2 separate regions of the Homo sapiens genome follow, and region 2 is linked to region 1. The links come from fine-mapping of genetic effects on gene expression. A gene starts in region 1. The other region holds a variant in brackets. All regions are shown on one strand. Distances are from middle to middle.

What was found. PIP is the estimated chance that this variant, and not a neighbour inherited with it, causes the effect.
Region 2: its variant is the best candidate, but not a certain one, in a credible set for the expression of MUC5AC in lung (TOPMed, PIP 0.52).

The regions. Positions count from the first base shown.
Region 1 is chr11:1,155,000-1,160,369 of GRCh38, reverse strand. It overlaps MUC5AC (mucin 5AC, oligomeric mucus/gel-forming), which reads right to left and starts at 2,417. Exons shown (of 49, transcript NM_001304359.2): 1 at 2,298-2,417. The coding sequence starts at 2,370.
Region 2 is chr11:1,114,327-1,119,696 of GRCh38, reverse strand. No RefSeq gene overlaps it. Among named protein-coding and RNA genes, the nearest start is that of MUC5AC, 41 kb to the left of the region's middle. RefSeq lists an enhancer at 5,191-5,370. The variant C/T (reference allele first, on the strand shown) is at 3,210.

The DNA.
Region 1 (5,370 bases):
GGCGTCAGGACCCTTCGCCCCGATCTGGCATCCCTATCTATTCATTCCCACTCACTGCCAAGCGTGCCAGGCCCTGGCCCCCACGCTGCCACGCTTGGGACCCCTGTCCAGTACAGTGATCCCACTGAGGGGCTGGAGCAGTCAAAGGCATGGGAGGGGTCGGCCCCAAGACCACCTGGAGGACCCTGCCTCCCTACAAGCAGCAGACCCTGCAGGAGGCTGATCTTCAGGGTCCATAGAGACTGTGCTAATGTGCAGAATGTCACCAGATTTCAGCCCGGCCCAGCCCCGCACAGCCCTGCACAGAGCCAGCATAGTGGGACCAGACCACAGCCTCGCACAGCCCTGCACAGAGCCAGCATGGTGGGACCAGACCCCAGCCCCGCACAGCCCTGCACAGAGCCAGCATGGTGGGACCAGCCCCAGCCCCACACAGCCCCGCACAGCCCGTCGCAGAGCCAGCATGGTGGGACCAGCCCCAGCCCCACACAGCCCCACACAGCCCCACACAGCCCCGCACAGAACCAGCATGGTGGGGCCAGACGCCAGCCCTGCACAGCCCTGCACAGAGCCAGCATGGTGGGACCAGACCCCAGCCCCGCACAGCCCTGCATAGAGCCAGCATGGTGGGACCAGACCCCAGCCCCGCACAGCCCCACACAGCCCCACACAGCCCCGCACAGAACCAGCATGGTGGGGCCAGACGCCAGCCCCGCACAGCCCTGCACAGAGCCAGCATGGTGGGACCAGACCCCAGCCCCGCACAGCCCCGCACAGCCCCGCACAGCCCCGCACAGCCCCGCACAGCCCCGCACAGCCCCGCACAGCCCCGCACAGAACCAGCATGGTGGGACCAGACCCCAGCCTCGCACAGCCCCTCACAGCCTCGTACAGCCCCGCACAGCACCCCAGCATGGGGGGACCAGACCCCCCACACAACCCCGCACAGCCCCGCCCAGCACCATCATCGTGGGACTGGACCCCAGCCCCGCACAGCCCCGCACAGCCCCGCACAGCACCAGCATGGTGGGAGGGGCGCCCGGCCCAGCCCAGGACCTGCAGAGAGGGGTCTTAGGGAAAGCTGTGATTCGCCTGCACCCCAGCCCCAGCTTTCCAGTTCCCGCAACTGGCATAGGGGTCCTCAGGCCAGGCTGGGAGACCCCCCTCGCCCTCACACCCTCTGGCCCCAGTGGGGCCCACTGCATCAAATCCGTCAGTGGGCGGAGGGGTGTTAGCATCTGCAAGCCCCGTGGGGGAGACGGAGATGACGGCCTGAGCCTCACTTATCTAGTCCCAGCCCAGGCCTGCCCCCACCTTCTAAGCCCCCGCAGACCCCAGCCCCAGCTCCGCCCTCTCCTGGGAGCAGCCCCGGGACAGAATTCCTGCTTCTGAGATGAGGGTGGTACAGACGAGGGACGGCGGGGCAGAGTCCGACTAGGCCACAGTGGAGGGTGGCACGGAGACACCGGGAGAGGGTTCTTCTTGCTCTGAGACTGCCTGGCAGAGGGCCAGAGGCTGGGGACAGGGCTGGGCGAGGGACCTGGGTGGGCCATGTGGCGGTCTCGGCAGTGCTGAGGTCCCTGCCCTGCTGTTCCAGGAGCCCAGGAGCACCCACCCCCCTCCAAACCCCGGCATTACCCCATGGGGGCACATGGTCACCAGCAGACCCGGTCCCAGGTGTCCCTCAGAAGCAGAGGAAGGGAACTGCTGGCCCAGCAAGGGGCAGTCCAGACCACAGGACCTGGAGCCTCCCCCATCACCCTCTTAGCCTCAGGGCGGGGGTGAAACAGTTCCCTTGTGGGCCTCACCATCACATCCCAGCTCAGAGGCTGAGACCTCCCCCCGCAGGAGATCCCCATCGAGGCCCAGACAGGGAACGTGAGCTGGTGAACTGGGCATGTGTGGGGTGTGCAAGGGCAGGTGCCTGGGGCTAATGCCCCGACCAGGCCCAGCAGGGGCCATGAGCAGCTGGAGATACTGTGGGCCAGGTGCTGTCGGCTTCTGGGGACAGGTGCAGGGATCCGGGCCGGGAGGGAAAGCCCGAGATCTGAGCTCCTACTTCCCTGCCTCAGGGAATGGCCCAGCCTCAGAGGTCCGCGAAGCCCAGAGATCCCTTCCCAACCCCACAAGGGGAAACTGCTCGTTCGTGGCCAGGCCACAGTCAGGGGCTATGCTGCTGGGAGCCGTTCATGGCACATGCAGCCTGCCCGGAACCCAGGGCAAAGACTGAGCTGCCTGAGGCCCACTCAGTACCGCACCACCCAGGACCAGTAGAGCGGCCAGGGGCCAAGCCGTACCTGTATGCCGGGTGCAGGCCAGAGCGAGAGCCAGGGCCCAGAGCAGGGCCAGCTTCCTCCGGCCAACACTCATTGTGTGGACGGCGGGGAAGAGTGCCCTGTCCCTCAGCAGCCTCTGAGGAGGGACCCAAGGTGGCAGGAGCTTTTTGTAGCCCCAGAGCTGGCTCCAGCCCCGTGCTTCACGTGGGTGGGCAGGGCGGGGCCTGTGGTTCCCCCTCACCCAAGTAAACAGTGGGTGCTCACTGCGGGCTGGCCAGCGGCCGGTGGCAGGCGGAGATGGGTGTGTCTGCCGGATAGAGCCCAGTTTCCGAGGGCCCCCCCAAGCCCTGGCCTGCAGGGGTCCTCCCCACATACCCCACCCTAGACTCTCCCTGGGCACCGTGCCATGCCCAGCAGCCTGTGAGTTCCTGGTGCCCAGAAGTGAGTGCTCAGAACAGCCTTAAGGCACCTCTTTGACACTAATCCCTCTGCAGCAGGACAGGGGGCCCAGCCCAGCCTTTCCCTTTCCTGCCATTCCTCCCATGGCCGACCTCCTGGTTGGACCCTCCACATGGGCAGTGGAGCTGCCGACCTTGGCTGGGGAATGTGTGGCTGCCTGGGAGGGAGAGGCCAGCCCCAGCCCCATCCAAAGCTCCTTATGGTCACCTATTTCTCCATTTCTGTGCCTTTTACTCCCCATGTCTTGTCTTACCCGGATGCCTAGAGAGAGAGCACATGCGGCAGGAGTGTGGCGAAAGGAAAAATGATTGAGTGAGTGAATGAATGAGTAAATGAGTGATTGAGGAGTGAGTGAGCCAAGGCGTCCCTCAGGCCAGCCACATGCTGCCACTGAAGTAGCGCCAGCCAGCCTCACCCTCCCTGGAGAGGGGCTCCTGGCAGCAGCCTCCAGGCAAATGATAGAACCCCTCCCTCACCATGCAGCCCCCTCCCAGCATTGCCCAGGAGTCCACCTGTGCTTCTGTCTCCTGACCCCAGGCGGGCAGGGCCAGTTCAAGTCACTTGATGGTCTCTGGCCACCAAGATCCAGAAATGCTCAGTACCCTCTGGACAGGAAGCTGTTGACTGGTCCGAGCAGTCCCAGCACAGAAAGGTCCCAGTGAGTCTTTGGCCTGAAGGGCTCTGGCTGAGAAGGTGCTGTTGTGTGATGAACACTTGCCCAGACCACAGGTGTGTGGCTGGACACTGTGGCTAGACTCTCCCTCCCAGGCAGCCACACACTCCCCAGCCAAGGTCGGCTGCTCCACTGCCCATGTGGAGCGTCCAACCAGAAGGTCTCCCATGGGAGGAATGGCAGGAAAGGGAGAGGCTGGGCTGGGCCCTTTGTCCTGCTGCAGAGGGGTTAGGGTTGAAGAGGTGCCTCAAGGCTGTTCTGAGCACTTGCTTCCAGCTCTCTAGGGACCCGTCCCAAGCTCTTTATGATTGCCTACTTCTCCATTTCTGTGCCTTTCCCTCCCCATGTCCTGTCTTAGCCCAGGTGCCTAGAGAAAGAGCACTTCACATGTGGCAGGAGTGTGGGGAAAGGGAAAATGATTGAGTGAGTGAATGAATGAGGTAATGAATAAGTAAGTGGATAAATGAGTGAGTCTATGAGTAAATGAGTGAGTTAAAATGAATGTGAATGAGTGAGCGAGTGAGTGAACAGGTGAGTGAGTGAGTAAATGAGTGAGTAAATGAGTAAGTGAATGAGAGAGTGAATGAGTAAATGAGTGAGTAAATGAGTAAGTGAATGAGAGAGTGAATGAGTGAGTGACTGAGTTAATGAATAAATGTGAATGAGAGAGATAGTGAAAGAGTGAATAAGCAAGCAGTGAATGAGTGAATGAGTCAGTGAGTGAGTGAATGAGTGAATAAGTGAATGAGTGAGTCAATGAGTGGGTGAGTGAGTGAATGAGTGAGTGAATGAGTGAATGAGTCAGTGAGTGAGTGAAAGAGTGAATGAGTTAATGAGTCAATGAATGAGTGAGTGAATGAGTGAGTAAATAAGTTAGTGAGTAAGTGAAGGGGGAATGAGTGAGTGAATGAGTCAATGAGTTAGTGAGTGAGTGAATGAGTGAGTGAATGGGTGAATGAATGAGTAAATGAGTGAGTGAGTGAATAAATGGGTGAGTGAATGAATAAGTGAATGGGTGAATGAGTGAGGGAATGAGTCAATGAGTCAGTGAGTGAGTGAATGAATGATTGAGTGAATGGGTGAATGAATGAGTGAGTGAGTGAGTAAATGAGTGAGTGAATGAGTGGATGCATGAGTGAATGAGTGAGTGAGTCAATGAGTGAGTGAGTGTATGAGTCTATGAGTGAATAAGTGAGTGAGTGAATGGGTGAATGAATGAGTGAATGGGTGAATGAATGAGTGAGTGAATGAGTGAATGAATAGATGAGTGAATGAGTGAATGAGTAAGTGAATGAGTGAGAGTGAATGAGTGAGTGACTGAGTTAATGAATGAATGTGAATGAAAGAGATAGTGAAAGAGTGAATAAGTGAGCAGTGAATGAGTGAGTGAATGAGTCAGTGAGTGAGTGAATGAGTGAATAACCAAATGAGTGAGTCAATGAGTGAGTGAATGAGTGAGTCAGTGAGTGAGTGAATGAGTGGATGCATGAGAGAGTGAATGAGTTAATGAGTCAGTGAGTGAGTGAATGAGAGAGTGAATGAGTTAATGAGTCAATGAATGAATGAGTGAGTAAATGAGTGAGTGAGTAAGTGAATGGGTGAATGAGTGAATGAGTCAATGAGTCAGTGAGTGAGTGAATGGGTGAATGAATGAGTAAATGAGTGAGTGAGTGAATAAATGGGTGAGTGAATGAGTAAGTGAATGGGTGAATGAGTGAGGGAATGAGTCAATGAGTCAGTGAGTGAGTGAATGAATGAGTGAGTGAATGGGTGAATAAATGAGTGAGTGAGTGAATGAGTGAATGAGTGGGTAAATGAGTGAGTGAATGAGTGGATGCGTGAGTGAATGAGTGAGTGTATGAGTCTATGAGTGAATAAGTGAGTGAGTGAATGGGTGAATTAATGAGTGAGTGAATGAGTGAGTAAATAAGTGAATGAGTGTATGAGTGAATAAGTGAGTGA
Region 2 (5,370 bases), 41 kb after region 1:
TCTTGAGGCCTCTCCACGGCCCAAGTTCTGTCCCCCACAGCCCTGCCCTCTGTGAGCCGCCATCCAGGGTGGCACAGACCCCACTCTGGGTCCAAGCAGAGATGCAACAGCCCCCAGAGTCCTGAGCCCCCAGACCCAGACAAGGCCAGGCCCCTGCCCTGTGGGACGCCGCCCCCTTCAGCCTCAAAAGGACACTGGGAGCGCAGAGGTGTCACCGCCTGGTTTGGAGAGAAAGAGCTAGAATTCCGGAGGAGGGAGGAGAGCAAGGGACCAGGGACAAGGGCGAGGAGGGGAGGGGGGTCCCGGGCTCCCCCAGCAACGGGTGCAGCCACACCGATGCTGAGTGTTTGCACACAGGGCTGGCCCAGCCACCTTATTTATTTATGAGATTTATGGGGTTTTAATTCAGCCCTACCTAATGACGCACACAGTGGCTGGTCAGCACCCAACATGGGGTACGGGGAGGGGTCCCGCCCTTCGGCTCCTGAGGGCTGGTCAGGAGCCACAGTGACCTGGGGACAGGAGTGGCCTCGGGTGCTCTAAGACCCGTACCTCTGGACTGGAATAAATGGCTAGAGCTCAGCATGGAGGGGTCTTTCTCGAGTGCCCGAGGGGGGCCCCTACTACCCAGCTCCCAGGCCCTCTGAAGCCCACCGGGCCCCACCGTATTCTCCACCTTCTGGGTCTCCAGATACTCTGTCCACTTTGGGGAGACCTTCCAGGGTCTCTGGCCCCCACGCCTCACCTTCCCTTGCCCTCCCAGTTCCCACCAGCCTCCCCACTCCCTCCTTCTCTCAGCCTCCGGAAGATCCTTCTAGAAACACTTCTTCTTGGAACCAACCCAAATGTCCAACAATGATAGACTGGATTAAGAAAACGTGGCACATATACACCATGGAATACTATGCAGCCATAAAAAAATGATGAGTTCATGTCCTTTGTAGGGACATGGATGAAGCTGGAAACCATCATTCTCAGCAAACTATCGCAAGGACGAAAAAACCAAACACCACATGTTCTCACTCATAGGTGGGAACTGAACAATGAGAACACATGGACACAGGAAGGGGAACATCACACACCAGGGCCTGTTGTGGGGTGGGGGAGGGGGGAGGGATAGCATTAGGAGAAATACCTAATACAAATGACGAGTTAATGGGTGCAGCACACCAACATGGCACATTATACATAGGTAACAAACCTGCACATTGTGCACATGTACCCTAAAACTTAAAGTATAATTTAAAAAAACAAAAGGAAACACTTCTTCCTTCTCATCCCTCCCCAGCCCTACCCAGCCCCAGCAGGCCTGCCTTGCCCTCCCACGAGGACCCCAACTCTTCTCCACCAGCCCCAGCCCCCAACAAGATTTCCCAAAAGTGCCTGTTGAGGTCCAACCCCATGCTCAGCCTCTCCAGGCTTCCCTGGGAGCCCCTGACTCCTGCTGCCCAAATCCTGCCCTGTCAGCACCACCTGCCCCAGAGGCGGGACCAGAGACCATCACAGCCACCTCCGCACAGCCCCTCTCACGCTCAGTCACCCCAAGGCCCCTCCCCATGCAGGTGGGTGGTGGGTGGGCGAGGGCCCCAGCTCTGGCCGTGCCCTCAGCCCTGGGCTGCCAGTTTAGGCTGGTCTTAGGGAGCCAACCCTGGGGTATTGGTCTTCTGATCCCACCTCATGGTCTGACCTCATGATCTACCCACCTCAGCCTCCCAAAGTGCTGGGATCACAGGCGTGAGCCACAGCGCCGGCCACTTTTTTCCTCAAATGAATGAATAGTGCTAAATCTTTCTTTTTTCTTTTTTTTTTTTTTGGAGACAAAGTCTGTCATGAAAGCTGGAGAGCAGTGGCGCAATCTCAGCTCACTGCAGCCTCCGCCTCCTGGGTTCAAGTGATCCTTCTGCCTCAGCCTCCCGAGCAGCTGGGATTACAGGCATGTGCCACCATGCCCAGCTAATTAATTTTTATATTTTTAGTAGAGATGGGGTTTTGCCATGTTGGCCAGGCTGGTCTCGAACCCCTGGCCTCAGGTGATCCACCCGCTTCGGCCTCCCAAAGTGCTGGGATTACAGGCATGAGCCACCGTGCCCGGCCCCTCTGACTTTTTTGTTATGGATGATTTCAAACCCTATGAAGAACAGAGTAATGGAATGGACATGACCACTACCTCCTCACCGTCAGCTGTAACTAATATCAGACCTGCCACTCTAGCTCAGGTGTTTTCCATCAAGGAATAAACATCACGGGCAGAAGTGGGTGCCCCTCCCTGCTCTCCAACCCTCTCCAGAGGCAACCGTGACCCTGAATCCAGTGCCTCTCAAAATATTTTATAATTTTACTACTTTTGTAAGTGTCCAGCATTAGGGTCCTGTTTCACATTCACAGAAACGGACAGCATCAGGGTGCAGGATTAGAGACCCGCGATTCATTCCTTCTGCTCGATGCTGGGTTTGCGATGCCTCCTTGTCAAGACAGGCAGTTCCGGTTTAGTGCTGGGCCCCATCCAGAGGATGAATATGCCCAGAGGAGCAGCCCGTTCCTGGTGGACCAGCATGCAGGCCATTTCCAGTCTCCATCCTCCCGGGTGGGCAGCTCCCTGGGTGCCCAGAAGCAGGACTGTGTCCTCAGCTTGGCTGCCCTGACCAACCGCTCTCCCCTAAACGCCCCAGCATGTTCTCTCTGGAGGTGTGAGAACCTTCAGCTGGTCTCAAGGATTATCACGCCCTTCCTGGGGTCCCAGTGGCCGAGCCTCCCTGCTGGCTACTCCCTGTGTTGTCCGTGTTTCCTCCTGTGTGACCCCCGCCTGTCCGCGTCTCCTCCTGTGTGACCCCCGCCTCAACCCTGGGCTGCTTGTCTGACCATGACGTTCGCTAGATCTCCTGGACTCCGGCCTCAGCGCCGGATGCACAGAGATGACCTCCTTCCACTCCCTGGCTTGTATTTTTACTTAGTTATGTTGTCTTTTTTCAAACACAGTTTTTAAAATGTAATGTGGTCAAATGCGTCTCTCTTTACTTTGATAGCTTGTGACTTTAGTGACTTAAGAAACCCTTTCCTACCCTGAGGTCATCAATATTATGCCTGTTTTCCTTCTAAATGTTTTCAGGTTTAGCTTTTCACATCTGAGTTGTTTAATCTACCTGGTGTTTTATTTTTGTTTAGAGCGTGACACAGGCACCTAATTTTCCCCATGTAGAGAAGCCCCGGCC[C/T]AGCACACTCAGGGGACAGCCCAGCACACTCAGGGGACAGCCCAGCCCAGCACACTCAGGGGACAGCCCAGCCCAGCACACTCAGGGAACAGCCCGGCCCAGCACCCTCAGAGAACAACCCTCCTTCCTTGTAGATGTGGAGCACCCACCCACCTCAAAGCATCATCGTAAGCACATGGGCTGTTCCAGGCATCCACTTGCCTATCCCGGCACCAATGCCACGCTGTCTTAGAGGCAGGCGTCCCACATGATTCTTCTCTGAAACTCACTTAGCTCTGCTTGGCTCTCTGGCCTTCCACGTGGACCTTTGGACCAGCCGGCCAAATCCCACGAAAAACTCAGCTGGGATTGAGAAAGGCTGTTTGCGGAGAATCGACCTCGTTTTTCACTTTTTAAAATTAATCTCATTTTTCAAAACTTACACTTTTCATTCATGAACGTGGCATACGTCTCCATCAGTCAAGTCTTCTTTTATGCCCTTTGCAATGTTATAGTGGCCTGGACACCTTCCATCTGACGTTTTCTACATAGGTATCTTCGTAGGTTTTGAGGCTGCTGTTAATGAAGTATTTTTCTATTATATTTCAGCTTGGTTTCTACTGGTGTAAACATACGCTATTGTTTTTTCCCTCATCAACCTTGTCTCCAACATTACTGAACCCTCTCATTAGTTCAAATAATAGAGTCAAAAATTCTCTTGGTTTTTACATCTTCATGTTTCTTTCTTTGTTTGTTTGTTTGTTTTTGTTTGTTTTTGAGACAGAGTCTTGCTCTGTCACCCAGGCTGGAATGCAATGGTGTGATCTCGGCTCACTGTAACCTCCGCCTCCCAGGTTCAAGCCATTCTCCTGCCTCAGCCTCCCGAGTACCTGGGATTACAGGTGCCCACCACCACCACCTCCCGGGTAATTTTAGTATTTTTAGTAGAGATGGGGTTTCACCATGTTGGCCTGGCTGGTCTTGAACTCCCAACCACAGGTGATCTGCCTGCCTCAGCCTCCCAAAATGCTGGGAATACAGGCGTGAGCCACCGTGCCCAGCCAGTTGGCTTTTACATCTTGATAATCACATTATATGAAATAAAGGCCAGGTACAATGGCTTACACCTGTAATCCCAGCACTTTGGGAGGTCAAGGCAGGCAGATCACTTGAGCCCAGGAGTTCAAGGCCAGTCTGGGCAACATAGCAAAACCCTGTCTCTACAAAAAATAAATTAAAATGAAACAAATCAGGACAGTTTTGTTTCCCAATGCTGGTCTTCATTTCTTCTTGCTCTTGTCTCACGGACTTGGTGAAGCCTCCAGCACCCCCATAGAGGGAAGGCACAGCCATCGCCAACATCTCCCATGTCCGCTGGCTTCTGTGGGAGTGATTCTCAAGTCCCAGCAAGCGGAGGGGTTCGATGTGTGCTGTAGTTTCTGGGCAGATGTTCCTAAACAGGTTAAGACGGCTTCCTTCTAGTCTGGGCTTGCTCTTTTTATAATAGCGAGTTGAGACACGCTGTTGACTCCCATCAGACACCTGTCTGCACCTAAGATCCTTCCGTTTTTAAATCCTCCACACGTCTCTGGCACCCTCTCCTGCCTGGTGGTGGTACAGCAGCCCCAGGGACTCGGTGTCTGAGCAGAGCCAGAACCTCTCAGGGGACTGGGACATGGACAAGACCCTCGGTCTCCCGTCCCCACACCGTGACCACGGAGGCAATAGCTGCTCCCACAGCCTAGGCCCTGGAGTGAGCGGATGTAGTGGAGGGCACCAGCCACGCAGCCACAAACGGAGCATGAACCAGACAGAACCCTGCTGCCGTGAACCACCAAGACTCGGGGCCAGGTGCAGTGGCTCACCCCTATAATCCCAGCATTTTGGGAGGCCGAGGCGGGCAGATCACCTGGGGTCAGGAGTTCGAGACCAGCCTGGCCAACATGGTGAAATCTCATCTCTACTAAAAATACAAAATCAGCTGGGTGTGGTGGTGGGCGCCTGTAATCCCAGCTACTCAGGAGGCTGAGACAGGAGAACCGCTTGAACCCGGGAGGCGGAGGTTGCAGTGAGCCGATATCACACCACTGCACTCTAGCCTGGGTGACAGAGCGAGAATCTGTCTCCAAAAACAGAAAAAGAAAAAGGGTCTTTGCAGATGTGATTAGATTGAGGACCTCAC